Linked DNA regions of Homo sapiens: region 2 is linked to region 1. A link means that fine-mapping ties the variant in region 1 to the expression of a gene that starts in the linked region. Tissue or cell type: fibroblasts. Region 1 holds a variant in brackets; the other region holds the start of a gene. All regions are shown on one strand. Distances are from middle to middle.

Evidence for each region. PIP is the estimated chance that this variant, and not a neighbour inherited with it, causes the effect.
Region 2: SGCG starts here. The variant in region 1 is the best candidate, but not a certain one, in a credible set for the expression of SGCG in fibroblasts (GTEx, PIP 0.71).

What each region holds. Positions count from the first base shown.
Region 1 is chr13:23,364,994-23,371,441 of GRCh38, reverse strand. SACS (sacsin molecular chaperone) reads left to right here. Exons shown (of 10, transcript NM_014363.6): 4 at 277-364; 5 at 2,955-3,040; 6 at 6,165-6,276. Among named protein-coding and RNA genes, the nearest start is that of SACS-AS1, 51 kb to the left of the region's middle. The variant C/T (reference allele first, on the strand shown) is at 3,659.
Region 2 is chr13:23,179,062-23,184,061 of GRCh38, reverse strand. It overlaps SGCG (sarcoglycan gamma), which reads right to left and starts at 3,083. Exons shown (of 8, transcript NM_000231.3): 1 at 2,987-3,083.

The DNA.
Region 1 (6,448 bases):
GATTCATCATTTAAAAATTTAAATTATGTTAATGGAGAAATATATATATTTTTATCTATTTGTAATTAACGAAAAATCTTTTAGTCCCTTAAATTTTTAAATAAAGTTTTTGACTAAATCTGTGTTCCGTGGAATATTCACTTCTCCAGACAACTTCCTTCATGATAAGAAGACTTAACAAGCATTACTTAAGTGAAAAAATTTGAGATAATGTCTTGAATTTACAGTATTAGAGACTGTATTGCTTTTCATACATTTTCTTTTGCTTTTTTTCAGTTATCTGACTGGATCAAGATTGGAGATCTGACTTCCAAAAATTGTCATCTTTTTGTAAACCTTCAATCAAAAGGCTTAAAAGGGGGAGGTATAATATTGACTTTACCAGAAGTATATACCATGTTGGGTTGCACAAAGATTGAGTTTTTTTGTTTGTTTGTTTGGTTGGTTTTTGAAACTGAGTCTCGCCCTATCGCCCAGGCTGGAGTGCAGTGGCACAATCTCAGCTCACCACAACCTCTGCCTCCTGGGTTCAAGTGATTCTCGTGTCTCAGCCTCTGTTCAAGTGATTCTCGTGCCTCAGCCTCCCAAGTAGCTGGGAAAACAGGTGCCTGCCATCACGCCCAGCTAATTTTTACATTTTTAGTATAGACAGGGTTTTACCATGTTGGCCAGGCTGGTCTTGAACTCCTGACCTCAAGTGATCCACCGTCTTTGGCCTCCCAAAGTGTTCGGATTACAGGCGTGAGCCACCGCTCCCAGCCGAGATTGAGTTTTAACAAAGAAGCAGGGAGTAGAATGGTGGTTGCCAGAGGGTGGGGGCAGGGAGAAATGGGGTGTCATTGGCCAAAGGTACAAAGTTTGCTATATGAATAAAGAAGATCTGGAGATCTTCTATACAGTACAGGGCCCATGAATAACAATACTGTGTTGTATTCTTAAAAACTTACTAAGTGGGTAGGGTAGATCTGATATTAATTACTCTTACCATAAAAGTTTAATAAAGCACAACAGAAGAGATGGGAGGAAACTTTTGGAGATGATGGATAAGTTTATGGCACTGACAATGATAGTTTGATGGTTTCATGGTACGTACTTATCTCCAAATGCATCAAGTTGCAAAATAAATATCTGCAGTGCTTTGTATTTGAGTTGTACTCAATAAAGCTGTTTTAAAGATTATGTTTTAAAAATGAAATGAAATCATATCCCATTGGGATAGAGTGAGGGGACATCAGGGCCAGAGGAAGACAAGCGTGGATGGAGCTAGTTATAAGAATGAGTGGGGGCCGGGTGTGGTGGCCCACACTTGTAATCCCAGCACTTTGGGAGGCCAAGGCAGGCGAATCACGAGGTCAGGAGATCAAGACCATCCTGGCTAACACAGTGAAACCCTGTCTCTACTAAAAATAGAAAAAATTAGCCAGGTGTAGTGGCACGCACCTGTACTCCCAGCCACTTGGGAAGCTGAGGCAGAAGAATCGCTTGAACCTGGAAGGCAGAGGTTGCAGTGAGCTGAGATCGCTCCATTGCACTCCAGCCCAGGAGACAGTGCAAGACTCCGTCTCAAAAAAAAAAAAAAAGAAGTGTGAGTGGGATAGGCTGGGCATGGTGGCTCACGCCTGTAATCTCAGCACTTTGGGAGGCTGTGGAGGGCGGATCACAAGCTCAGGAGATCCAGACCATCCTGGCTAACACGGTAAAACCCCATCTCTACTAAAAAATACAAAAAATTAGCTGGGTATGGTGGCGGGCACCTGTAGTCCCAGCTACTCAGGAGGCTGAGGCAGGGGAATGGCGTGAACCTGGGAGAAGGAGCTTGCAGTGAGCTGAGATTGCGCCACTGCACTCCAGCCTGAGCAATAGAAGGAGAGTCCGTCTGAAAAAAAAAAAAAAGAATGGGTGGGATAGAAGTCTGTGGAAACAGAGTCTTGTTTGAGCTTGGTCTCAGTATGTGGTTGTACCAAAATGACGCAAATAAATTTATAGTGACAATTTTGCTTTTTTAAGCAGAGGTTTCTTTATACTGATAAACAGATTTTTGAAATGCTGTGTATTTGAGGCATTACTTCCCATTTTCTTGTTCTTCCTACAGCCCTGTCACTTGTCTGAAGGTGACCTGGTCAGTTGGTCTAAGAATATCTAGTTTAGGCAAGGCTTGAAGGTACTTGAAGTGGACAGCCATTGAGACAGTGACTGCTGAATTTCAGAACAATCAGAACACTGGTTGAATTTGAGAATATTAAGAATGTGATAATAGGCACCTCTGTCTCTGGCTTGTTATTTAATGGCAAAGCAGCCACAAAATAACATCATTTATTTTATTTGCTTTGGAAAATATCAACACTCCTCCCCACTGCACCATGCTTCTTGTTTTTGAATTAATAGTTATTATATTTTTGAACATTTTTTGAGACTTTATTTGTAGTTCAGTTAAAAATCTTGAGGCCAGGCATGGTGGCTCACGCCTGGAATCCCAGCACTTTGGGAGGCCAAGGTGGGCGGATCACGAGGTCAGGAGATCAAGACCATCCTGGCTAACATGGTGAAACCCCATCTCTACTAAAAATACAAAAAAATTAGCTGGGCATGGTGGTGGGCACCTGTAGTCCCAGCTATTCGGGAGGCTGAGGCAGGAGAATGGCATGAACCCAGGAGGTGGAGCTTGCAGTGAGGGGAGATCACACGACTGCACTTCAGCTTGGGCGACAGAGCGAGACTCTGTCTCAAAAAACAAAACAAAACAAAACAAAACAACTTGAGATTTGATACAATTGAATCTGCTTTACTTTCTGCTGAATTGCTTCGTCAGGTAGATTTCTGTACCAGGGTGCTGCAGTGAGATATATGCAACCATAACTTGTATAGTTATATGATGTCTCAGATTCAAGTCACACATTGGTGACAATTCATGGGATTTTTTTTCTAACTCACTTAAAATGTGCTCCGTATTTTAGGTCGATTTGGTCAGACAACGCCACCACTTGTTGATTTTCTCAAGGACATTTTGAGAAGATATCCAGAAGGAGGACAGATTCTTAAGGTGGGGCACATGTCGTGTTCATGTGTTATTTACTTTGATAAAAATGAGATGAAGTAAATTTACTTGAAAGTCCTATTAGTGTTTAAATTTTTAAAATGTTGTCTAGATTCAAATAGCTGTATTATACCTCTGTGGCTGCAGTGTATAGCAGTGTATAGCTCCATTTGAGAATGGAATTGATATAAATATGTGAGGTTTTCTGGGGCAAAGAAATGCGCTAAGCTACTGGGTGCTGTAATCAGCAGTGTCGCTCCGGGAATGTTCTCTGTAGATCATTGTGCAGGGCTTTACACGTCAACCAACCAACCAACCAACCAACCAACCAGCCAGCCAGCCAACCGGCCAGCCAAATACATTCTACGATTAGAGGCTTGAATGCATGCCCATTGGACTCCTGATTTTAGAGGTTTGCTATTTTGGGAGGGTTTATTTAATAGGATAATTATTTTATTTACTTATTTCTTTTTGTAATATGTTTTTTTAGTTTGATTATACTCTTTAAAAAACAGGCTGGGCGCAGTGGCTCATGCCTGTAATCCCAGCACTTTGGGAGGCTGAGGCGGGTGGATCACCTCAAGTCAGGAGTTCGAGACCAGCCTGGCCAACTTGGCGAAACCC[C/T]GTCTCTATTAAAAGTACAAAAATTAGCCAGGCATGGTGGTGGCTGCCTGTAATCCTAGCTACTCAGGAGGCTGAGGCAGGAGAATCGCTTGAACCCGGAGGCAGAGATTGCAGTGAGCCGAGATTGCGCCACTGCACTCCAGCCTGGGCAGCAGGAGCCACACTCCGTCTCAAAAAACAAACAAACAATAAAACAACAAAAAAAGAAAAACCAATAATCATCAAAGAAAGCAATAATGGGAGATACTGCAAAAATTAGATTTTGTGTTTAATAAGAAACTTCCTTAATTGTCAAAGTAGACCAGTTGTTATGCATTTTCCTTCCCATTAGCTTGTTTAGTGTTTATTACCTTCAGTATCTTGGCCCTGGTTATATTTTCTAGTTTAGATTGTAAACTGTGAGGGAATCAGGACTAGGTCTCTTTAATTTAAGAGAGTCATGCTCAGGTAGGCACTCACTGAGGACTGTTGTGTCTTTAGTGATCATGGTGAGACTGGGCTGTTGGAGCAGTCCATCTTTCAGCATAGGCACCAGTGGTTCACAGAAAGCGAATTCAAAAACAGTTTTTGTATTGACTTATTAGGAAAGTGAGGATGGAAAGAGTATTGCTACGAGGTGGTTTTGGGGTAGAAAGAAGTGAATAGAATACATTTAAAATAAAGGTATAGTGGTAACAGGAGTAGGTTGTCATCTGTTTAGAAGTGAGCGAGTGGGATCCTTGCTGAGAAATGAGAAAGGTCTATGGCAAACAGCTGAGGGCTACGCGCCTTCTGCTTTGCTTATAGATATATTTGTATTGTAGCCAGTTCAATGTAATCTTTGTTCCTTGGATGTTGTGGTAGAATTAGACTGTTTTAGATTTAATAGGAGTCTTAGAAATCACCAAGACCTACACCACCACCTTCTATGGTATTTGTGTTTGCTGAAACAGGTCCAGAGATCTTAGTGGCTTGCCCAAGACCAAATACAAAATGTATTGTTGCTGTTTCCCAGAGTTAGTTTACAAACAATCTCTCAGGATTGCAATTTAGGGGAAAAGCTTCCTATCCTATTTTTTATTCAACTTGAGAATGAGTGGAACCTGGGACTTAGATTTTATCTTTAGTTTTCTGCCTCTCTGCTCCCTAAAGTACACATAAATAATAAATAGATACCTGAATGAAAACAAGGTCGAACATCTAAAGTGCTATCATTTTGTAAGTTAACATTGTTTTTCACTACCTATTTAATTCTTATTTCCATCCTTCATATTATTATAATATCCTAATGTAAATAAGATTGTTAATTTTTAGGGATTCTCTGGGATTGAATGAGGCCTAAAAAATTAAAATCCCATGAGAAATAGTTAGTTACGTAACAAGGAAGAATCACTAGCTGATAATGAGGCTGCAGGAGGCACGACTTAGCTGTTCATGTTTGGGGTGGAACAGCTGGTGGGTACCACACTCCAGCCCTTTGGGATGCACTGGGTGAACTGAGCACAATCTCAGAACTGACTTTTCACTTCTGCTCCCTCAGTCTCCTTGTAGTTATTTTGTTTCATGTAGTCATCGTACCACCTCTCTACTCTGATGTAGGCATCACTGTTGACATTGTTGTAGTATCAGTTAAAGTGCTCTTCAATTTTTGCCCATCTGTACCTCCAATTTAGTGATCCCAAGGCTCTGGGGAAGTAAAAAAGCTCTTTTGATGATCATGGGGTTGGATCTAGGAGCTGATTCTTGATTCAGATTCTGGAGCTCCCTTCAAACTGAACGGAGCCCAGCGTGATTTTAGTAGGTGTGCAGAAGTGATTGGGGTTGTTAGGATTGGAAATTTTGTTGAGGCAAATCTTGCAGTTTGCCCTTTCCTTTCTACATTACGGGGAGCTGGTCACCCTTCCACTCACCCACCATTCACCAAACAAATGGTAGTGCTTTCTTCTTGATGAAAGGAATGAGTCAGTCCTGACCATCTGGAAGCTTTCAGTTTAGTGCAGGACAAAGACATTTTTATATCTCAGGCTCTCAAGAAAGCAGCCAATTGAAGGGTATATATAGATTGCTACTATTTGGTTTTATTGTTTTTCTGTGGAAAGGTAAGTTTAGTAAGCAAAGGATAAAAAAGGTCTATTTTTGGCAATCACTCAAGCTTAAGTTACCTGCCACACAGGACGATATGTGCAGCTTTTGGAAATAGAATAATTTCCTTTGAACAAAAGCTTTGGGTAGATTGTAAATATGAGACAGTTATAAATAGGGCCCAGGATTAATTTGCTAAGTGATAGCAAATTAAAAGACAAAATTTAAGTGCAAATAATTGGAGAAGGACTTTTCAACCATACTGTCACATCTATGTAACAATTACTTTCAGTAGTAGCCTCACCAGATCTTAAAGGTAATGTTGCAAATAGTGGGTTTCCTTTATTTAAGTATATTAACTTCTTAAATATTATAGATAAATACAAAGATGAGCAGTAGATTACTGTGTTATTAATTACTATTTTTTGGTATATTTTTTGGTTAGGAATTAATTCAGAATGCAGAAGATGCTGGGGCGACAGAAGTTAAATTTTTATATGATGAAACTCAATACGGAACAGAGACTCTTTGGTCAAAAGATATGGCGCCATATCAGGGTAAGAATCAATAATTAGGAACAAATTTTATTGTATGCACTAACAGGCAGTTTTTAATGATTAATAATGCTTTGTTTAATGAACAGTCTATCATTTGTACTTTTTGGCATGTTTATGTCCACTTCTTCAGATGTTTTTCTCTGCTTTTGGTGGGAAGGTGTCTCCACCAGTT
Region 2 (5,000 bases), 190 kb after region 1:
ATGTTGCCAAAATACAAACATTCAAATGCATTCCAGTATGGAGACAACACACTTATATTGTTTCACCAAGATTAACATTTTAGAGTATTTTATGTAGGCTGGGCATGGTGGCTCATGCCTGTAATCCCAGCACTTTGGGAGGCCGAGGCGGGTGGATCACGAGGTCAGCAGATCGAGACCATCCTGACTAACATGGTGAAACTCCGTCTCTACTAAAAATACAAAAATTAGCTGGGCATGGTGGCATATGCCTGTAATCCCAGCTACTAGGGAGGCTGAGGCAGAAGAATCACTTGAACCCGGGAGGTGAGTTTGCAGTGAGCCGAGATCATGCCACTGCACTCCAGCCTGGGCGATAGAGCGAGACTCTGTCTCAAAAAAAAATAAAAATAAAGGGAGAATATTTTATATAAAGTTTTCGTTACAATCAAAAATGTTGAAGAAAAGGAAGATTTTCATGGGAAAGGTAAACAGTCACTTGCCTTTCTTTCCTTCATAGACCTTACCACTAGGGATAGGCAGGCAGCCACCAGGAATGCCAGGAGGGCTATTTGTATCCTGGAATGCACACACCCCTTCTGAGCAGCCATGGCTGCGTGCAGAGAACGTTCTCCACAGAAACAGCAGAAATAGCCTCAGCCTGGAGTCTCCTGCCTGCTTAGGGCTCCTTTCTGGTACGCCTTCTTAGGGGACTGTGAGAAGCAGGTTCAAGTTCCTGACCAGTTACCGTCATTTTCCCGAGGTCTTCCTGACTTCCCCGCAGTGTGGGGTCAGGATAAGAGGGTGCATTGATGGGTGATGCCGATGGAAGCTACTATTTACTAAGAAGTCAGAAACTTTCTAATTGCCTTATATAGACTAAATTTGATACTTGTTAAAATGGTAGCTGCTACAATGCAACTCCTCTCACCTTACAAATGAAGAAACTGAGACATAGAAATTAAGTAATTCACACAAGGTCAAATGGCAGTCTGGCTCCATAGCCTAAACTTTTAATCATAGCCTCTTCATTGATGTTAGACTTTCCAGAGATGTTTCTCAAGTAAAATTAATTGAGCATTTTAAAAACAGAGTTAAAGAAGTCACGAAGGTGAAGCTAGGTTTTAAGGTACTCTTCACTGCCGCCTCCACTGCCCTTAATCCATTCTCCATGTCAACTGCAGTGATCCTTCCAAAGCACCCATGTGACTGGGCTGCTCTCCTTTTCTAGAGGTTCAAAGGTCTCACTGGTGCTTAGGATGAAGCACAAACGCCTTTGGGCACAGCAAGCCCTCCTGTCCCCATTCCTCAGTGGTCCTACCCACCAGTCATACTGAAGTCGAGCAGGCAGTGAGATTTTCACAGGTTCTGAGAAAAGTCTTGAGACCTTTACCATTCACAAATTACTAAATACTCCTGTACCAGTGTTCCCATAAAACTATCTACAGCATAACATATAAAATTAAAAATGAAGCTGGAATCCAAAATGGCCAAAGTAGCAAGTGATGGATCCTGCAATCCTCATGAGAACGTCGTAGAACTATCTGGCCCTGCAGTAGGTCTGGAGAAGAATAAAGCCAGACAGGTGCTATAGAGGCTGAGAGAAGGGGAGGGAGGGAGGGAGAGACAGGAAGGTGTCATGAAGGTCAAGGTGGGTTCTGAAGGAGCAGGAGAGTAGCAGAGTCATCCTCAGGACGCTGTAGTTTCTCCCCTCCCACTGGGAAACCACAGCCCTGGTGCCTCAAGCTGAGAAGACACAAGCGCTGTGATGAGCCACAGATTAGGGAGTGGAGGGAGATCCTCAGGCCCTATAAGTTATGCAAAACTGAACACATTGGGAACCCACTATAATTTACAACTATCATTTAATTTTTAATGCAATTTAATAACAACTTAGTTTAATGACTAGCAAGTACATTTTTTAAAGGACAATATGGAACAATTTCATTTTCCGCATTTTAACTGCAAGCTTAGCTGATATCTTTTGGACACCTGAATTTGTTAGTCTTTGGAATGCTATATCTAACTACATTGAAATGCTACTTTTCATTTGTCTTTGAAAGACAATCTGAAATGAATCCTAGAACCTATAAAACGAACCCCAACTTGTAGCATTACTTTTTAAATTCCACAAAGGTGCCTTTTTGTACCTACAAAATGTTTGCAAGAAAATAAGCAAAAAACAAACGGTGTATTCCGTAGTTCGTTTTTGTACTGGTCTGCTGGCAAATCTTTCAGTCAGCTGAGTTATATTTTTCCGTATTATTTTTTTCTAATCCTTCCTTTAAAAAAATTGTGTTTGCTAGTTGTCATGTATTAATTTAGAAAACGCAAAGAAAGAACTCATAACTTCAGTAAGCTGAAGCATTAGCACATGTGTACTTTTACCCCACTTATGTTTATTTTTTCATACATATTTTGAGCAGTATTTTATATTTTCCAGATTTAGGGAAAGAAACATTCTTCCCTTTTCACTCCAAAAATAGTGAAGGAGTCAGGTTGCTATTTTGCTCTTGTTTTGTTTATTTCCAACTTATAAAACCACTGGACTTTTGTTGTCATTCATTTTAGTTTATTTCTTAGTGTCTATAACAAAACTATCAAGAAAATCTAAAGCAAATGTAATTCTACCACTAAAGTTTAAGAGCAGAATTAGAAGTAGGTGATCTTAAAGATAATACTTTGTTTAAATTAACTACAGGATCCAATTCAATGCCCAATAATACAGAAATGCTACCTTTGGCATTCTACAAATTAAAAATGTTAGAAATATAGGATTATGCTAAAAATATGTAGCATATTTGTAGTCAGAATAACTTAGTTGAAATGAGAATTTCATTGATACTTGATATGTCATTATGTTGTGATACACCAATTTATTCAACATTATTTTAAATTTATTATTATGCCACCAAAGAAGAAAGAATATTAAGAAACCTCTTAAGCGTTTGGTTTTTAGGTAGTACTTTGTACTGATATAAAATCTAAGTTAAAACTGAGCACTTACCTTAGATATTAAGAAAAGCACACTGGCGAATGAACTACAGCTGGCCCGAGCTCTACCACAGACAGAATGTTTCAAACTTTTCTATGACTTACAGAATGAGAGCAAAGGATGAAGCTTCAGCAACTGTCCCTGGAGAAAGGGCTCTCACGAGTTTCGCCCTGTCTCATGTTTCATCCCCTCACATTAGCAACAGACGTGTCTAATTTTACTCAGTGACATAAACAGTTCATACCACACTTAAAATTTTTTGGGCACCAATTCCAGGACACAGCTCTTCGCATGCCAAAAACAAACCAAAACAAACAAACAAACAAGAAACCAAACTCTTCTTCTTACAAAACCAACTTTCCAACATTTAAACCCTAAAGCATGATAGTTTAATGTAATTATAACTTTCTTAAAAAAACTTTACCTCAAACAAACAGCAGAAAACTTCTAAGACTGGTTTCCATTAGAAACTAATGTTGATAAAATTTTACGAAAAATCTCTTCAAATTAACATGCAAGTTAGAACTTGTGACTATTACCTATATACTAGTCTCATCCAAATGAACGGCATATTACCATGTAACAGTGACTCTTTAAAAATCACTTTCCCTAAGCCTCTTTAAGTGAAAAACTTTTAACATCTGAGGAGAAAATCTTAAACAAAGATCACCATAATAGAAGGTAAACAAACTCTGCATGTTAAAATTATGACAGTTCTTTTCTAGTAAACTAACATTTCTATTGTGTTTAACAAATTATGTGAATGTAACAAATGTGACCTTAAATTGTCTTTATGTTTATTTAAGAGTAATTAGGTCATTCCATTTTATAAGGTGTAAAGACAACAGAATAAATATCGAACTTCTGAATAATTTTAATATTTTATTTTGCATTATTTTTATGTGACCTGGTTTGCAGCAGGATTAAAACTTACTAAATTATATACTTCATATTTGCATTTTAGTACTAAACCTTGAATATAAGAAGCAGTGCCTTAGTATACATGCACACAGAGATGGGAACAATCAGATACTGGGGCCTGCTTGAGGAAGGAGGGAGGGAGAAAGGTGGGGTTCGGAAAACTGTCTATCGGGTACTGGGCTTACTACCTGGGCGATGAAATTATTTGTACATCAAATCCTGGTGATATGCAATTTATCTGTGTAACAAACCTGCACATGTACCCCTCGAACCTGAAATAAAAAATGAAGAAAAAAAGGAGCAATGCAATAACAATGCATATGCTTCATTCTCATTTTATTTTCTTCTCAGGAGACTTTTCTCTTCATTCTGCTTATTTATACTCTACCATAATTTCTTTTGAAATTTGATACTTCTATCATACCAGCAGCTGCAGGCCTTAAATTACAAGCTGATACAGCTTCAAATAATCTTACATTTGTAAGACATTTTAAAACCTTTCATGAATTCTCTGCACATTAGTACTTCTACTTTGGGAATTCAGCTAGACATAAAATTATAGGACAACTATCAATTTTAAACAAAAATAATATATTAAACAATAATGATATGAAATGTATTTTTGTATGAGTGTATGTCTGAAAAGTCAAAGTCTGAAACTGCTAACTCAATATTCTGATTGAAATGTCATGCATGTAAAGGTTACAATTGAGATACCTCTTCATCAATCGTAAATTGGTTTTGTTGCAATGAACTTTTCAGTGTTTTGGGAACTGCTTTGTAAAAATGTTAGTCAGGTGATGTGTTTGATCCCCACTCATATTTACAGATTCATTTAATACTATCCACACCTATGTTTAGTAGGGCAGAAGAATCACATAAAGAAGCCTTTGATTTTATCAGTTAGTTGAAATTATTAAAGCAAGACCTTCAGTTTGTAATGTAGGCAGCTTAAGTTTGTAACTCACACACACACATTTTGAAATGTTCTCAAAGGAATCATAATACTTTAAAGCTCCAAGAGACCTTAAAGAAATCTAGTCTAACAGTCATTTAGGTGTAAAATAATTTGTTCCAGATTACAAAGCTAGTAAGCCTATGGGTA